Homo sapiens: one gene and its partners. The protein of the gene in region 3 purifies or fractionates together with the protein of the main gene of each other region. This does not show direct contact. Each region holds a gene or a part of one and is shown on either strand. Other genes may lie near its edges.

The links. Proteins that work in one complex are often made in the same cells at the same time.
Region 1: the proteins of USP8 (region 3) and GJA1 purify together in Homo sapiens (affinity purification with western blotting; one study listed by BioGRID). This does not show direct contact.
Region 2: the proteins of USP8 (region 3) and USP22 purify together in Homo sapiens (affinity purification with mass spectrometry; one large-scale study listed by BioGRID and IntAct). This does not show direct contact.
Region 4: the proteins of USP8 (region 3) and KRT85 purify together in Homo sapiens (affinity purification with mass spectrometry; one large-scale study listed by BioGRID and IntAct). This does not show direct contact.

The regions. Positions count from the first base shown.
Region 1 is NC_000006.12:121,442,146-121,445,645, reverse strand, and holds part of GJA1 (gap junction alpha-1 protein), read right to left. Parts: intron 2,030-3,500; exon of another isoform or gene 1,953-2,029; intron 1-1,952. UniProt on the Homo sapiens protein: Gap junction protein that acts as a regulator of bladder capacity. A gap junction consists of a cluster of closely packed pairs of transmembrane channels, the connexons, through which materials of low MW diffuse from one cell to a neighboring cell.
Region 2 is NC_000017.11:21,012,012-21,015,511, forward strand, and holds part of USP22 (ubiquitin carboxyl-terminal hydrolase 22), read right to left. Parts: intron 925-3,500; coding exon 819-924; intron 1-818. UniProt on the Homo sapiens protein: Deubiquitinase that plays a role in several cellular processes including transcriptional regulation, cell cycle progression or innate immunity.
Region 3 is NC_000015.10:50,476,405-50,479,904, reverse strand, and holds part of USP8 (ubiquitin carboxyl-terminal hydrolase 8), read right to left. Parts: intron 3,057-3,500; coding exon 2,912-3,056; intron 2,630-2,911; coding exon 2,406-2,629; intron 1-2,405. UniProt on the Homo sapiens protein: Hydrolase that can remove conjugated ubiquitin from proteins and therefore plays an important regulatory role at the level of protein turnover by preventing degradation. Converts both 'Lys-48' an 'Lys-63'-linked ubiquitin chains.
Region 4 is NC_000012.12:52,359,506-52,361,993, forward strand, and holds the end of KRT85 (keratin, type II cuticular Hb5), read right to left. Parts: intron 1,994-2,488; coding exon 1,962-1,993; intron 1,542-1,961; coding exon 1,348-1,541; 3' UTR 501-1,347; downstream 1-500.

The DNA.
Region 1 (3,500 bases), on a different chromosome or scaffold from region 3:
ACAAACAAACAAAACCTACTTCAGGGTGTTTTCTCCAGCCAGAAAAGATTGGTTTTCATCTTTCATTGTTATATACTTTAAAGTTCCCTTACTGGGCTTTGGACCCTCAGGCTATACATCCCATTTAACTTCTTATCAATATCTAGCTATCTAAAGTCCACGCCTTCTCCATTACTGAGGATAAGAAAAAGATCTGGCCAGGCGTGGTGGCTCACGCCTATAATGCACTCACGCCTATAAGCACTTTGGGAGGCGGGTGGATCATGAGGTCAGGAGATTCAGACCATCCTGGCTAACATGGTGAAACCCCGTCTCTACAAAAAATACAAGAAATTAGCCAGGTGTGGTGGTGGGAGCCTGTAGTCCCAGCTACTCGGGAGGCTAAGGCAAGAGAATCGCTTGAACCCGGGAGGCGGAGCTTGCAGAGATCACGCCACTGCACTCCAGCCTGGGTGACAAAGAGAGACTCCGTCTCACTAAAAAGATGTAAGTCAGTAGAAACCAACAAGAATCCCCAAAGTTGTCTAGTTCAATTTATGCTTCTAATTGCCGATTATCCATTTAGCTGATAAAAATTGAGGTTCTCAGAGGTTCTCAGGGTATAGGAAATATTTAGCTATAGACAGAGCCAGAAGAAGATTCACAATCCCCGGGCAAGTCTTTTCAATGCCTCACACTGGTTTTAAAAGTACAGTAAGGCTGCGCTAAAGCTAGAAATGTTTCCAGGCTTTGATATACACAACCTTAGCCAGGGCTGAAAGCTGGGAAGAAGTGAGTAACATGATGTGGCAGGCATAGGGAATATAGGCTAATTTTCAGCACATAGTAGTAATTGGAGGATTTAGAAAAGGACAAATTAGTCAAAGATTGTTTAATAATTAAAAACAAGCAAAGCTAAGACTTTGCAGGAGCTTAGTAATGAATTCTAAATAGAGTATCTAAAGGTAGGATTATTTAGGCTTCTTAGAAATATGTTCACTATCTGAATATAAAGGAGTTTCTCTTCTGGTGTTGAACTATTGAGCTGTATCTCCTTGTAGGAAGTAAATGAAATCCAGGGGAGTCTTCTTCCTCAGTAAGCAACATTACATTTCTGTCTAATGACTGCATCTTCTGGCCATAGAGAACAAGAAAAAATGAAATGGGCACCTGACCTGGGATTTCCTGGACCGAACAAAGAAGAGATGGCTGAGCCATAAAGCTAAACTATGCACCAGCTAGATGGTACCACGGTATCATGGGTACATTTGATGACAGCCCAGGGACTAGTGCCAAAGAATGCTGAGTAAGAGTGGGAGGTGGGTGTGAAGGCCACAGAAATAACACTCCCCCAGTGGTCATAAGAAAGGGAGCTTCCCTTTTACTTAGGAAGGGTCATTTTAGATTCTGAAGTGACAAGTTAGGAAGTGAAATTGATGTATGAAAACAGCATCAATTTAAAACAGCAGTCAAATAAGAACAAAGGCTTGAAAGGCTGACAAAGACAGTTGAATAGCCAAGGAAAGGCTTGAAGTGAGGGAGTAATTTAGCCGTGATGGACAGTTTGATGGTGAGAGAATGTGAAAGAAAAAAAAACCCTACAATTTAGCAGAAAATACTAGACTGGAAATGAAGAAGTATAGTCCATGAGGGTCAGACAAACAGAATCTTTGGAGCTATATCAATAGACAGTTTCTATGTGATGATGTGTAAAATTGGCCCTAATTCTGTTTGTAAAAAATTACAGTATTTTGCCAGTGTCATCTGCTTTTGCTCACATATTTCAATTGCTAGGGGAAAAATAACAAAAACAATCAAGTATAAAAAGATAAACTTTGCATACATCTCATCACATTCATGCAACGATAGAGCTGAAGACAAACCTATCATATCTAGAAATATGACCAGGCAGAACAGAAGTTATTTTAGCTAGGATTTCATCATTACTCAAAGTAAAATATGATTGTGTAGATGCTTATAGTAATTCATCACTAAGTTTATTTACATTCTAGTAACAAACTATAGAAATGATCCCTGAAAGTATAGTCTTTATTTACATTCTATAAAAAAATTCATGATACATGACTTTCATATAATTTTGAGATTCTACAAAAACACTCCACAGTTCCATAGTATGTGAACTAAGTCATCAGACAGCTCTTCATTAGTTCTTTTTTAATACTCTAGTAACTTAATTGCAAAGTTGTCTTTTCTTTAAGCACCCATGCAGTTGTCATTTGCATTAATGAGTTATACTCTTTCATCTTAATAAGATACGAATTATCGAATTGGACACCGAGTATCCTGTAACATGTAGCTACCTGTCGATCTCCACTATCATAGATACCATCAAATAATGTTTAATGTGACAGCTGCCCAAAAACAGGTAACAAAAATTGTTCCCTTTTTTTTTGGTAGTTGCTCACTTTGCCATGAATCAAATTTTGGCAACTGGTTGTTCCTCCCTGCTGCACCTTCCCAAACTAGTTTAATATCTTCATTTTTCCAAGTCTTGTATGGTAAGTTAATACCCTCTTATAATAAAAGGGCATAATTATATGTTTACAGAATCCCTGGCATTGATCTACAGACTATAAACTGCACTTTTATTCACCAGGGGGAAACAGGTATATTTCTTATTTGATACATGAGAAGACCAACGCAGCTGGACATATCACATATATTCATGCCTTCACCTCTAGGATACTGAGTTGGTGCTTTATATGTAGACCAAGGTCTGTCTAAGAGGAGTTGTGCAAAGTTCTTGTTAAGAGCAGAGTCTTAGCAGCTGGACCACGCTTTTTGCCGTCTATGCACCATGTTAGATTACATTTCCATTGCTCTTCATGGCCCCCTAGACTGGATGGATGCCCAAAGCTACAGGCACTAAGTGTGACCAGCCTGAGGCTCCTCTGGCCCCTTTCCTGAACTGCATCACAGTCACTTGGCAGCATTTGTTAAAAACATACATTCCTGGTCTTCACCAGTCTGAATGAATCTGAATTTCTGGAGGTGGGGCCTAGGAAGTAAGGTTTTTTTGGTGTTTGTTACTATTCTTGACATTTCTGGCCCTTTCTTGTTCAAAATATTTAGGAGTGGGAGAAATGTCAGGAAAGCAGAAGGAACAGTCTAAAAAATCCAAGGGGCTGAGTACCAGGAGCAGCAGCTCTCTGGGCACCCGGCATTGAGGTCAGCCTTGGCTCCACAGCCCCTTGTCACTCCTTACATCTCCATCTGCAGCTCCCTGAGAGCAGAAGAACTTAAACGCTTTAATTCAAATGAGATCTCTTAAAAATAAAGCTTTGATTTTAAATTACATTTGACTATGCCTTTTGCTAGAGCATGTGCCGAAGTTGCAGTCAAGTCTTTCCATGCCATTAATATACTAATAGTTATTAGAATTAAGTATTTTACTATCGACTTTAAATATTTTTCTCAAGAAGAGACAAATGTAATGAGTTGAGAATGGAGACTTAAATAAAGGTAAATAGGATTATTGAAAACTAAAGTGAAATTTGATA
Region 2 (3,500 bases), on a different chromosome or scaffold from region 3:
GGCAGCACTGGCCTTTCCCGATATTTGCTCGTCTTATGCAGTTTAGAAGTGACAGTCCATTTCGGGTTCTGAAATAATTTCGGTGGATCATGTCCAGGGTTTTTAAACTTCAACTGAAGTAAAGAACAGAGCCAGGCACGGTGGCCCATGCCTGTAGTCCCAGCTACTTGGGAGGCTAAGGAGGGAGGATCGCTTGAGCCCATGGGTTCAAGGCCAGCCTGGGCAACATACACAAGACCCCATGCCTGAAAAAAACAAAAACAAAAACAAAAAACCTGTAGCATGCACTGAGGTTGGGTGAGAGGGTCCCCTGACCTAACAAAGCAATGGATTCTCCCTGCACTCAACACTTGAGGCTCTAAGCAGAGACCACATCTGAGAAGAATTAGGGCCACTACATCAGAAAATGGAACCAGAAACCATAAAATAATGAAAACTAACACACTTCGAAGCACGTAGAAAAACAATCCACCATGCATGATCCACGCCTTCTTGAAGAGGGCTCTTTCACTTGGTCCCTGGTCAAGGACTGTAAGATGCAAAATGGTAGGGGAAGCTTCCAAGAACACACTGCTGGCTGTAGACAACAGCCAAGACCTCAACACGAAGGGCTCGCATCCCGAGGGGACACCTGCCCTACGACCTCCCCAAGAGGAAGCACCCCCACCCCACAACCTTCGCTCTCATGGCGTCTATTAATCATTTATCTCATAGCCTCCTTAAAGACCTCTCAGAGCACACACAGCTCTGGAGACTGGGAGGATGTCAGTACGGCCCCAGAGGGTTTGATATTGCCGAGCACGCAGCCTCTCACTTACTGGCAGACTTGGCAGGTGACGTCTGACTGCAACCCGCCTGTGAAGATCTGGTCTATGATGCAGTTGCAGTGGTTGGGGTTGTTGGCCTTCTTCCCATTGTCATCACCTGGAGACAGACCACGGCTCTGGGATTAGTGTCTCCCCAAATATGGGGAGTCTCTAAGGGAAGAGCAGTTCACCCTGCAGAAGCCTGGGGGAGCCAGGGCCAACGCTTTAAAAGGCCATGTGAGGACACTCCTCATTTTAGCAGAGGGTGTCCTTGTTATTTTAATATGACGAGAAATCACAGCACTTGGATTTTCAATGCTCCTTTTTCTCATTCCCTAACAAGAGCCCCACAGCTTCAGTCTTGCCAAGAAAACCCACCTAATGCCCAGTGACTGAGCAGAATAATCGATTCCCATTATCATATAAAGAATGACTGAATCAATATTGTTCCAGTGAGACAGCTGAACATATGGTGGGCCAGGTACACCCGGGGAAGCCCCAGCAACCTCCCTCCCTGAGTAGGTATCATGGTGCCCCAAGTTCAGAAAGTGACACCGCAGGACACAGGCTGTCCTCATCAGCTAGAGCCCCCAGGGGACAGCGTGTCTTCCAGTCAGTTGCATCTGGAAGTGCCACTCCCACCCTCTCTATTCAATACACACTTCATTCATATCCATGTGTGCAGATCTGTGAAAAAGAAACTTAAGTAGCAGAACTTAATTCGTGTGTGGAATACATATTCTACATAACTTCACTAGACAGTGGGGACAGGGCACGAGGACACCTGTATATACATCACAGTTCAAAGACGTTGAATCATGACAGAGGAATAGAGAAGGGCCACTAAGTCTTCTGAGAGCAGAAGGTTTAAGATTAGAGAGAAAAATGCTTCCCAGAGGGATCTCAAATTCATGGGACAAAATTCAGAGGACAAGAATATCCATACAGGAAGGCGCAAAGAATGATGAACAGAATGGCCAGGCGCGGTGGCTCACGCCTGTAATCCCAGCACTTTGGGAGGCCAAGGCGGGCGGATCACGAGGTTAGGAGACCGAGACCATCCTGGCTAACACGGTGAAACCCCGTCTCTACTAAAAATACAAAAAATTAGCTGGGCATGGTGGCGGGCGCCTGTAGTCCCAGCTACTCAGGAGGCTGAGGCAGAAGAATCACTTGAACCTGGGAGGCGGAGGTTGCAGTGAGCTGAGATCGCACCACTGCACTCCAGCCTGGCGACAGAGCGAGACTCTGACTCAAAAACAAAACAAAACAAAACAAAAGATGAACAGAAAGATGCCGTGAAGGCCACAAGGACAAAATGCACGTAACCAAGGCCATGTGGCCAGGCCACCTCGCTGAACAGCTCTGGCAACCAGGTTTCTAAACAGAAGAACCTTACATTTCTTTTCAGACATTTCCAAGGGAATTCTGTCAGAAGCACGTCAGAGGTCACATTTTGTCATGTGAACATTTAACAGCAATGCATTTTTGAACAAGTGATTTTTAGAACATCTTTCTGCTGCTTACAGAAGGCTCTTCGTTATTCTCACTAGGTGCTTGGGGTAACAGCATAGTCACTTCCACAGTGGCTCTTTCCTCTCTTATAAATCATACTAGGACATGAAATTCTACCTAAGCTACTAAGTAACTTTCCTTTGATTTCTAGGTAAGAATTAAAAGGATCACGTAGTTTTTCAGAGGAAAAAAAGTAAGTACCAAAAGAAAACAGAACCCAAAGTCACATTTGACCAAAACCAGCCATTTTAGCTCAACTGTGGGTTGTTTCTGGGCTGTGATCTCAGAACCCATAGGTTGTACGTAAGCGCCTAGGGCCCGGGTGCACAGCCTTGAGACGGATGAGAAGCGATGGGAAGGCCAGCCCACCAAGCTGTTCAACTCGGTGAACCGTCAGAACAGGACTCTGTTCTCTAAAAGACTCCAAGTTAAAATTAACTGATAGGATATCGGCTACAACTAGCTGTGCCAGCCCAGAGACCACAGGAAACTCACAAGCAGCCAGGTGCCCTGTGACCTGAGCGCATGGGTTCTCAGAGTATGGCATCTGAACCAGCGGCATCAACATCAGCTGGGAACTGATTAAGAGTGAAGAAGCCCCTGCCCCCCACAGATCTGCTGAATCAGAAACGCCAGCACGGGCTTTAGGAAGACCTGCAAGTGACCAGCCCACACTCATCTGAGAATCACCTCTCAGTCTCTCTGCCTGTATGGATAGACTTCAGCTGCAGGTCCCTCACACTGGGATCTCCACCATGAGGAGTGGGGAGGAGCCGATCTTGGCTCAAGTCATTCATTCCCAGCCTCCCACCTCCAGCGCTAAGAGCTGCCCCTGCCAACTACCAACACCACACAACTCTGAAAAATCATCAGGGTACCACCCTGGGGCCAGGCTGTGGGACTATGTTGGGGGAGATGGCCCAGGTCCAATGAGACCCCAAGAGAAGCTTTGCTCGTCCTGTGTCCCAGCTCTCTGGCTATTTCAGAGCAACCATCAGTCCTTTTGGAGAGTCCCCAATGGGAAGGAGACAGTTGGGTGATTAAGTTGTGTTTGGGGGATGTCCAGAAGCCTCAGGCCTGATAACCCACAGGGTCCCAGAAATGCCAGGGCAGGCAGGGGCCTCAAAGCACAGGCCCAAGAGGGCTCCAAGAGTTTGCTGTTCACTGTGATCGGTCACT
Region 3 (3,500 bases):
TGCCTATAATCCCAGCTACTCAGGAGGCTGAGGTGGGAGGATTGCTTGAACCCAGGAAGTCGAGGCTGCAGTGAGCTGTGATCACGCCACTGCACTCCAGCCTGGGTGAGAGAGTGAGACCGTTTTCAAAAAAAAAAGAAAAGAAAAAGAAAACGAGGTTAGTGTAGAAAAAATAATTTTTTTCCTGTTCACTTCTCTTTCTGCCTCTTAAAAAAAATCCTTTGTCTTTTTTTTTGCATGTATTTGAGAATAAAGTAGGAAGAACCACTATGGGGATGAGGTTAACAATAAGAGGTGGAACAGAAACAAAAATAAATGTTGTTTCCATTTACATTTTGGTGGCTTGATCTATTTTTCCCTAATTTTAAAAGTATAGTTATGATCATGTTACTCTCAAGTTTAAAATTCTTTAATGGTTCCTTGTGCCTACAGGACAAAATTCAAATTTGATCCAAGTCTCTCTTGATGACTCTTGTCCATCCTTCTAATCTTATCTACTATCATAACTTCCTCTCTCCAACAGAGACTAGCGCCCACATATGCCAAAACTGTTCACTGGCCCCAGAGCATGCCCTATGCCTTTGGTCATAGAATTTTCTACTTGTTTCTTCTATCCTCCAATCCTACTCTTAAAGCCCAGATAAAATACTGTCTCCTCCATGAAGACGTCCTTGATCTTCTCAGCTAGAATATTCTCCTTGCTCTGTGCTCCAGTGCCTTGTAGAGCAATTATGATATTCTGCCTTATGCTGTGGCTGATTTTATACAGATCTCTCCTTCCAAACATCAGAAGAACCCATCTCTTGTATATACAAACTTTCATGCTGTCTTATTTTTATTTTTATTTTTTTTTGAGACAGAGTCTCACTCTCACCCAGGCTGGAGTGCAGTGGCCTGATCTCGGCTCACTACAACTCTGCTTCCTGGGTTCATGTGATTCTCCTGCCTCAGCCTCCTGAGTAGCTGGGACTGCAGGCACGCACCACCACGCCTGGCTAATTTTGGTATTTTCAGTAGAGATGGGGTTTCACCATGTTGACCAGGCTGGTCTGGAACTCCTGACCTCAGGTGACCCACCTGCCTCCGCCTCCTAAAGTGTTGGGATTACAGGCACGAGCCATGGCACCCAGCCCTCATGCTGTTTTTTATATAGAAGATCTTCAAAATATGTCTGAAAATTGTACGTATCTCATAAAGTTATGTTGGGACACAAAAGGATTAGCGTTTAAATAGATTAAGTTGAAAGGAAATGCAATAACATAGAGAAGCTCTTTTTAGACTTTCCTAAATTCACCCTTTAAGAAAAGTTGTTTAATCACATCTATTTAGTCTGCAATTTATTCTGCAATACTAAAAGACCTTAAAAAAATGAAGAAATGAACCACTTCAGTTTATAACAAAAAATTACCAGATTTTCTATTCAATACCTGCTCCACAAATCAAACGTCATCCACTTTAAATGTGAAATACTGTTTTAAATATATCTGGGGAAAAAATTAAAAATGAATGCTAAAAAATGTTATTGGGAAATGCATGGAGGGGGAACATTAGTTAACCTTTCTTTAAATAAAGCCAAATGAAGGATATAAAAACTAAAATTTTTTTATTTGTAATGTCTTGGTTATTTAAAAACTTTTACATGATTATTGTTAAACATGCCTGTTATTTGCGTGTCAAATTCTAAGGAAATGAAACTAAAGCACTGTTTTAAAACCAAAATACTGACATCACATACCTATCATATGTAAGCCAAGCTATTTATGAAAATAATATGGGTCAAATTATAATACAAAAAATCCCAAAAGGGCTATTCTAATTCACTGTGATAATGCAATCTTTCATTGGCATTGTTTGTAGCAAATGGATCGCCAACTGGCTTGGAAACCCCTTAATTATCTACTCTAATATAGGCGTGGCGGTAATGCTGAATTATGATGAAAAATTTTTAAACAAAAAATTTATCAAAACATACAGACTGTTCTCATCGATACTTTTTTCTAAGATGTTAAAGGTTATATATTAAACTTCGTTTCTATACTATGTATTTAATTCTTTTTTTTTTTTTTGAGACAGAGTCTTGCTGTCACCCAGGCTGGGGTGCAGTGGTGCAATCTCGACTCACTGCAACCTCCGCTTCCTGGGTTCAGACAATTCTCATGCCTCAGCCTCCCAAACAGCTGGATTTATAGGCACCCACCACCATGCCCAGCTAATTTTTGTATTATTAGTAGAGAGGGGGGTTTCACCATGTTGGCCAGGTTGGTCTCAAACTCCTGACCTCAGGTGATCTGCCCCTCTCAGCCTCCCAAAGTGCTGGGATTACAGGCGTGAGGCACTGTGCCCAGCTATACTATATATTTAATATTAAAACAAAAGCGAGAATAATGTTAAAATCAAGAACATACCTGTGGAACATTCTTTATACTAGGCACTGGCTGAATTATGGGTGAAACATCAGATTTAGAAGCAGCAACTGGTTCAACTGGAGTTGATATATTCAGTGGTCCCATTCTCTCATTTTGACCACTTATCAATTCTATATTTTCATCTACTTCTATAGATGCAGGTGGCGTCTGGGCAGCAGGTTTAGAAGGAATTGATTCTTCCAATGAGGGATAAGTAAAATCCACTAAAATTCCAAAAATAAAAATGTTTTTTAGAATAGCAAACCCCATACACAGTACTTACATTTCTCATGCGTGTTAATGCAGTAATTAAATGTAAACTAAGTGAAAAAACAATTACAACAGTCTTAAAGAAAATGTGAACTTCCAGGCTTATATTTTTATGCCTGAAAACAAACTGCTCTCTAATAGGACAAATACACACACAACCAAGAATGTTACCGGGAAAACAATTTTAAACCATATTTTACCAAAGCAATTTTAAACAAAAATTTTCACATACATACATGAGATAGACACCTCTTCATTCTGGCGTCGTGGGGGTGGAGTGACCTTAGCATTTGTTGTATACTGGGGATAACAAAGGAGCCAGTTTTCATAGCCTCCCTCTAAAACCAAAGGCTCATTGCGCAGGACAGTTTTACTTTCCCACTATAAATAAGGAAATCATATTTTAAATAGGGCAGCAATCTTTCAACAGCTAAAAACACAACAAATCTAAATTTTAAAGTTGTTCCCTTAAGGACAAAATTTATCTTCTAAATAATGACAAAATGAGAACTGAATTCAAAATTCAACATTAAATGAAATGGTTATATAGGTGAGGTTTTAAAAACCATACAAATAATCAATGATCTTAGAAGAAAAATTAGAAAATAAATTACTAAATATAAAACAAAAATGACCCATAACCTCACCACCCCAATACCACTTTACATTCTGGAGTTTACTCTTATAGAGAGTTTTCAATAAAACCTTTATGATGTTGCTTTTCTATGAACATCTTTCATCACTATAGAGCTATATCATCATTTGCAATGCTAGGTAATATTCGACTACTGGTTGACTGATTGACAAGGTCTCACTCTATCACCC
Region 4 (2,488 bases), on a different chromosome or scaffold from region 3:
GATGGCCTATGTGTCCACAAGGGGTATGTAGGAGAGAGTGTCTCTGGGCTGCCTCAGAGGGTAGACTTGTCTCCTTGGGGTGGAGTCCATGACTGGGAGGATGAGCACCGCATGGAGGGGTTGGACAGGGCTGAGGAGTAGCTGGGGAAGGAGGTGACAGAGGAAGCCTGCATTTGGCATAAGAAGCACACACATGTGCCAGGAAGTGACTTGAGCCAGGCAGGAGAGGGTGAGAGCAGTGAGTTTGGGATGGAGTTTTGGCTGCTGGGAGTACGCAGGGTGGGTCAGGGAGAAAGAGGTCATTAGTGGGGAGCTGGGCTGTAGTCCAGGCCTGAGGGGACTGAGGGCGACTGAGTGGAATCAGACTGTGGAAGTGGACAGGAAGCAGCAGAGTTTCTGGGGGGTGACTGGGGAAACACTGCATGGGGCTGGACTGGGATTGGTCATCTGGAGATGAGGCAAGAAGGGAGTGGAGAAGTTGCTCACAAGACCACACGCTCTTGCATTGCAGCGGCATTTATTGAAACACAGATCGAGACAACCCAGAAGGCAATGCACCCATAGACAGTCACAAGAAGGAGACCCAGGAAGTGGCTTAACTCTCTGTCCCGCCAGCTCTGCATTGGACAGTCCCCACCTGCACCCAGCAAGGGGGCATCTGGAGCAGCCATGGAGTCTTCTTTGAAATGTACAAAGGTTCACTGAATAGCAAGACCTGTCCAAAGTGCCCTAACCAGGGGCTGTAGGCAAAAGGATGCCCCACGATAATGGGCTTCTCAACTGCGAGGTCACATGAGGAGCCTGGCTGGAACAGGTTAGCCCAGAAGCAGGAAGGCAGTCTGAGAGAGAAGCAAAACATGAACAGGAATGAACAGGCAAGTGCTTGCTGGGGGACCATTCTTCCCAGCCAGGAGGAGGGGGCTGCTGGGGAGGGACTTTCTCCCTGATTCTCGGGTTGTGGGTGGCCTGGCTGGATGGTTAGGATGGCGCCTCCACCCAGAAGGTGGAGCTTCCGTGCTGACCACCACGCTGGGGGACTGGTCTTGTCCCTGAGAGCTGGGGGAATAATACAAATTGGATACAGGTATTTTGGAGCTAAGTAGGAGTTAAGTGAAGGGCTGGGAATGCCTCTGAAAACAGCTGCCAGGAGGACAACTAGGATGCATCTCCCTAGCATGAAAAGGCGCAGGGGAGCGGCCCGAGGGTCTTTCCCTCTGTAGGTCTTTCCCTCTGTAGGAACATCCAGAAGATTCTGGAAGCAAGCACACATTTTCCATTCACATGCCATTCAGTGCAGTGATGCAGGCAGGCAGGTGCTTGGCAGGAAGCCCTGGCTCCATGACTCTACTAGGCAAAGCGGACCGACCGGCTACTCCCGCAGCTGAAGCTGGAGGAACGAGGCTGGCAGGGGGCACAGGAGTCAGGGGCCACCACCGTGATGCTGCCGCCTATGGCTGAGGGGCCAGAAGTGATCTGGCGCCCTGGGGTGGTGCTGTAGGAGAGGCCCCCACAGGAGACTCCACCACGGGAGCTGCTGACACCTGTGGAGAGAGGAGACATGGAGGGGTGAGCAGCTCCCTGCAATCTCACCCACCCTACAACAGGCCCCAGGGCACTGCAGGAGCTGCCTCCCTCTCCAAGGAATTGGTGGTCAACAATGCAGGCCCTGTCCCTGAGATGCACAGCCCATCTAGGGAACTGGGGCAGGAAGGAAGTGAGGACCCCTGGACCCCGGGGAGCAAAGCTGCCAGGCCACAGGTCCATGGCCTATAGCTCACTGTCAACACTTGCGAAGAGCACTCAGCTCAGCTTTCTCTAACACCTGTCATGGCCCCCACTGAGGAGCCAGGGGAGGGTGAAACAGTTGGGGGAACACTCGAGGCTCCATGGGTTAGGCCAATGAGTTCAGCTTTTCTATCAAAAAAGCCATTTTTCCAGGAGAATTTCAGGCAGATACTCACAGACATTCACAGAGCCCACACCTTCACACAGCCTATGGAGAAAGAAAACTCTGTTAGTTCCAGACACTGAGTTGGATTCCTTGAGACTGATGGTTGCTTGGGGACAGAGAGGGTCATCCTGTGTACAGAGTCTACCCCTGAAAGGCAAGAAGGGCTCCCTCAAATCTGCATTAAATGCTTTCTTTCTTTGATGGTTTTAACCATGAAGACAAGGCTTTCTGATTTTCAGCAGCAGTGGGTAAGATTATGAACAGTGCCCCTAGTTTGAGTGATGGTGGCCAGCCTGGATGGTGCCAATCAAGCTCACAGGAAGGAGAGTTGAATCAGATACACCAGGGTGTGAAGGGGCTTTGTGGTTGATGAAGAGCTAAATGCATATAGAAGTGCATCATCATCATAACACACAGGCCTGTGTGGCAGCAGCTTCAGTAGGAAGCTATTCAACAAGGACGGATTTGGGAGGCATGAGACTTGGGTGCAGGTCCCAGCTCTTCTGCTTATTAACTGCGTAGCCATGATAAAGGCAC